Regions from separate parts of the Homo sapiens genome. Here region 2 is linked to region 1. Evidence: fine-mapped expression QTL. Tissue or cell type: whole blood. Region 1 holds a variant in brackets; the other region holds the start of a gene. All regions are shown on one strand. Distances are from middle to middle.

Region 1 (2,500 bases):
ACTTCTATAACTTTAACTATATATAAATGATTTCAGAGTTTCTTAGTAATTTGTAATTATGCTGAGAGAACAGAATGTCCTATAAGGTTAACATGCTTCATCAGCATATCACTTAGCCACAAAATATACTAATTAAGACTTAAACATATTAGAAAACCAGCTCCTATCACTTACCACTTATATGATCTTGAATCACTTATTTTACCTCTCTGAGCCTCAGTTTCCTTATAAAATAGAAACAATAGTACCTATTTAATTGAATTTGGGGAAGAATAAAATAACATAACGCAGAGAAAATACTTTGCCTCTTACAAATTGAGTATCAAATAAACCTCAGATATTACTACTAAGACCAGTATCAGCATTTCCAGTAGCTTTGTTTGCCTCTCTCACTTTGTACCATTTTATGGGGAAAACTACATGCTATCATGATATTCGTAAAGCTAGAATTCTTAAATATCTTATTCCTTTATAAATGTCAAGATTCTACTGCTTTTGCTAAACTTAAAGAGAAAAGTTATATTATGGTATTTATCACATCATTCTTCAATTATGAAATGCTATATACACGAAAGGAGAGTATAATTGTTTTATAGATTGGAAAATTTATTTGCATGATAAAATAGCATCAAATGACATTAAATTTTCAGCTACCTAAAATTCCCATGAGGACCGCAGGTTCCTTGGATGGAATTTGTTGTAAGAAGGGTAGGATATCATCAAGTACAAACCACTTATCCAAGTATTCCAAAATCTTTCCTAAGCACACTAATGAATTTACACGAACCTATTAAAAGAGGTAAATTGCATTAGTCATTAAAAGTTTTCAAAATCTAGAACAAAATATTTAAGTGTAAACTTAATCTTCATATAAATATGTTAAAGTCTCAAGAATAAATGTAGATTTAGAAGCTCTCATCCTTTATCAACATAGGAAATTCACTTATTTACTAATTTTCCTGGCTTGTTTCACAAAGAATTTATGATTGCTTCACCAGGTCACTAGTGAGCTAAAGTCAAGGAATGACTACAATCTTGTAGCATTTTAAAGTGATTAGAATTTGAGAAACTTTTACTACATTATGTGTTACTATCATAAGAACACTCCTTTGGGGACATTTGAATAATAAAAAGGACTACATTCTTTGCACCAAGTGATCATTTTCACCCACATTCCAGTATTTTACTCTAACTTGGGTTCAATTCATTTTTAAACTAAATATTTTAACATGTGAAGGTATCCATATATGTGTTTTCTATTTCCAAATATACAGTTATTAAGACCTCTTATTTAGAAGCTTTTATCAAAATTCCATATGCACTTGACTATTTGATAAATACATCATACCCTACTTCTATTTGGAATTTCTTAAGATAGAATATCTTTAAGTCAGGACTA[T/C]AGTATTAATAAAACTCCAGTTTTCAAAAAACAGTAAACCAACAAAGGCAGAAAATAATTTTGTTGGCTAATAAAGCACCATAGTTCTACAGGAAAAATGGGGAAAAATTTCCATTTCTAAAAAACAATGTACAATTGTTTTCTGAAATTAAAACACAAGAGATATTATAAATTCAAAAAGGTATCTGAACGCTTAACTTGTACTCATAATTCGTTTTATAAAAGGAACAGCTGCATTCTACTGAGATATATATATATTTTAAGCAAAACCGAGAATACTAATTTTATTTACTTTTAGGATATATAAAATATTAGTCATGTAAGTAATGAATAAATATAGCTCTTGGAGGATTTTACCTAACTCTGTGTAGAATTTTTAAAAATTTTATTTTCAGGGAAGAGTATTAAGACACAATACTAACTCACGACTCAGGAATTTCCTAGTCAGAATTTTAAACTTTTAGAGATAGAGGACTATGAATACAATTTGGGAATTCCTATTTGCCACTCTGAAGGTAGGCAGAAGCACTGAAAGTACTATCTAAAATCCACTTAAAAGGTGACATATAAAATGTAAATCCATTCCTAGTTACTGTTCTAAATATAAATACATTCATTATAACTTCTTGTAAACAACATGCCTTAACGGCCAGTTGGCATCTTAAAAAGAAACATACATATAACTGGGCAGCAATTCACATCATTTAAGTATCCATGTTTCCCATTTCTACATACCCCTACATATGCTCAGAACTGAACTAGAACAGGTACTCGCTTTGCTTTGGTTTTGGATTTTTTTTGGGCGGGGTGGGGAGCGGCGGGGGCTTGCTCTGTCACCTAGACTGGAAGGAGCAGCACAATCACAACTCACTGCAGCCTCGACCTCTTGGTCTCAAGTGATGCTCCCACCATGCCACCACATCCAGCTAAATTTTTTTATTTTTAGTAGAGACGAGGTCTCGCTGTGTTGCTCATGCTCGTCTTGAACTCAGTGCTCGAGATCCACTCGCCTCAGCCTCCCAAAGTGTTGGGATTAAAGGTGTGAGCCACCATGCCCGGCCTACAACATGTACTTTGAGAAAATGTATGTTAATATAAATT
Region 2 (2,755 bases), 59 kb after region 1:
ACTTCTATACAAAGGAATGGATAGTGATGCTACCCACGGAGTTAAACACAGTAAGAGGAGCTATTTTTCTTCTTGGGGTGGGGGAAGGGAGGTATATCATGAATTTCAAACATGTGAATATGAGTAGTTATTCCCAGTAACAGGGTTGATCTGTCTAGAAAGTATTCCACAGTATAGAAGTACAATGTGCCTGTATTTATTTTACTGGGTATTTATGAATCTTAGAGACAAAATAGGTTTCTGCATGTGAGTAATGTAAATCTAAAGAGAATGAAGGCCCTTACCTTCCATTAGGTTCCCTTCCTTTACACAATCCCCCAAAAGCATTCTTTATGATTACAGTTTAATGTTGCCTCAAGAAGTAATTTATATACTCAGCTGATTTCATTTTTAAATATTTTAAAAATATTTGTGCTAAAGAATAAGACAGCAAACCAAACAACAACAAACCTGCAAAGTCCAAAAGGAATCTTCAAGCACCTGACTTTCAAGCCATCACCAGAACATAATGGGGTTTTACAGTGGCAGGCTGATTTGGAGCATTTTTGCTAAACTATTTATTTTTCAGAACGGAGATAGGCTACTTAGAAAACTCACTCATAGTATCCAATGTTTTTAGAAAGTGTCATCACAAATAATTCCTGAGTTTGACGTACTAAAAAATAGTTGACACCTTCCAATGAAGTCACTACAGGCATAGCGCTTTTAAGCAGCTTGTCTGGAGCCTCCTCGAGTGCCTTAGAGGGTGGATTTGATAATATGGCCTCCTTAATTACGGATCACAGGTATGTGCTCAAAGTCCAATAAGTTTTTGCAAGCTTTATCGGTCTAAACCCTCCTCCATCCGTATTCTCCCGTTTAGAAAAACAAGACTGCAGGAGTAACCGTGGGGTTTTTTCTCTTAACAAAACCCCTGCCCCACCCACCTCACACACAATAACCTTCCATTCCAGAACTAAAGCTACTGTCAGAGAAGGACGGCGGGCGGCAGGGCCCTGGCTGGTGACCCAGGCTACCGGATTCCGGACCTCAGAACTGAGGTGAACTCTCTCACCCGGTCCTAGAGTAGTGTCCAATGTCCCCGAAAGGTACTACGTTCTCCACCACCGAAACCCGAGCTCTCGAGCCGGCATGGGGGGCTCTCCCTCCGGCAGCTGACTTCGATCCCGGGTCTCCCGTCGCCTCAAGGCCTCTTTCGAGGACTCGGCCCTCTCGGATCCGCTCCCCGGAGCTCGCTGCTCGTCCAGCCCCGCTTTGCGCGGGCGCCGACCGCCGATCGCCCGGCCGGCCGCCGGCAGGCCCGTCACCAGGCAACACCCACCAGCCTGAGCGGCCCTGGGAGGCCTAACCCGGGCGCGAGTCCTCCATTCCCTCCTCGCCGGCTCCGGGAGCCCAGGCGAGAGAGCCGCCGGTGAGGGAGGTCGGTCGGTGCCGGCGGCCGGTCACTTACCTCTTCCTTCTTCCAGGAGGGGCGGTGCTGGGGCTCTTTCCCCCCGCCCCCCTAATAAACGCCTCCTGGCTGTTCCTGCTCTGCCTTCGTGCCTGGCCACTGACTCTGGCTTTACTCCATATCCTCCGCCGCCCCCGCGGCCGCAAACGTCGGAGCTAGAAGGAAAGGGGTGGGGAGGGGAGGGACCGGGGACGAAGAGTAAGGGAGGGGGAAAAAGACTAAAAGACCTGCCGGCCGGGGGCATGACGTCACTTCCTGCCGGTTCGGAAGAGGCGGAGCCAGTACTTCTCTCCGCCCCGGGTGTCAGGTGGGGCGGGGCTATGGTGCCAGGGGAGGAGCCAGCGCGCGAGCTTATGGCGGTTCTTTTGACTCCGAGGTTCCGTAGACTTGTCAGTCAGAACGAGCTTCCGGGCCCAGGGCTGAACGGGCCAAGTTCCAGGAACCGTAGAGATGGCTTCTGCCGGAAAAGGAGGACAGGTAGCCCTGTATATCCTAGCCAAATGTGCAGTGAAGGTGGAGGGGGCAGCTGAAGGGAGCAGGCGGCTGGGACTCTGCTCCTCATTGGTCCAGGGCCCCGCCCATTTCCTAGCCCCGCCCCCTTCCTGCCCTACCAGGCACTGGACTGGGGGACCCAGGACTGAGGCTTTTTAGGGGTTACTGTGGTGAAGTGCCCTTGGAGCGTGCAGGAAAGCGTTTTTTCTCAAACTTTAATATACATACGAATCCCTAGGATCTTGTGAAAGTGCAAATTCTGATTGAGGAGTAGGGTCTGATAATCTGCGTTTCTAATACATGTCCAGATGGCACCAATGCTGCTGGTCCCTAGGCTACACTTACAGCAACAAGGGGTTAATGTACTAGAGGGCAAATTCCTTGAGCTAGAGGAGTTATTTCTTTAATCTAGCCTACTTGTTTAATGAAGGTTAGAGAGGTAGACTGTCTATGGAAAACAGGCTGTACCGCTGTATTTTCCACCTACCCCGTCGAGTACCCTCCTGCCCACCTCCGCCCATCACTTTCTGGCCTCCCCTCCTCAGTCTCCGCTCTGCCCACAATGTCTGGGGATAAGATTTCTTGAGTGATTAGACGGGTAACTTCTGTTACAGAAGGAATTTGAGGGTGGTGGATTTTTATTTCTGTCATTTTATCGTAAACATATGTATAGTTGGGCATACTTTTGCGGTTATGCATAGTTGGAGAAGAGAGCTTAAGTTCTTGGATTCTACCCACTTCCCCCTGCAAATCTAGAAAAAACATTCTAGAAGTTCTAAGTTATTCCCTTATCATTCTTTAATTTTTTTAATT

Evidence for each region. PIP is the estimated chance that this variant, and not a neighbour inherited with it, causes the effect.
Region 2: SCYL2 starts here. The variant in region 1 is fine-mapped to the expression of SCYL2 in whole blood (INTERVAL, PIP 0.95).

The regions. Positions count from the first base shown.
Region 1 is chr12:100,324,909-100,327,408 of GRCh38, reverse strand. It overlaps SCYL2 (SCY1 like pseudokinase 2), which reads right to left. Exons shown (of 18, transcript NM_017988.6): 12 at 655-787. Among named protein-coding and RNA genes, the nearest start is that of SLC17A8, 31 kb to the left of the region's middle. The variant T/C (reference allele first, on the strand shown) is at 1,400.
Region 2 is chr12:100,266,092-100,268,846 of GRCh38, reverse strand. It overlaps SCYL2 (SCY1 like pseudokinase 2), which reads right to left and starts at 1,670. Exons shown (of 18, transcript NM_017988.6): 1 at 1,055-1,670. It overlaps DEPDC4 (DEP domain containing 4), which reads left to right and starts at 1,768. Exons shown (of 10, transcript NM_001364818.2): 1 at 1,768-1,927. The coding sequence starts at 1,771. RefSeq lists enhancers at 1,036-1,095, 1,106-1,175, 1,846-1,925 and silencers at 1,246-1,325, 1,426-1,475.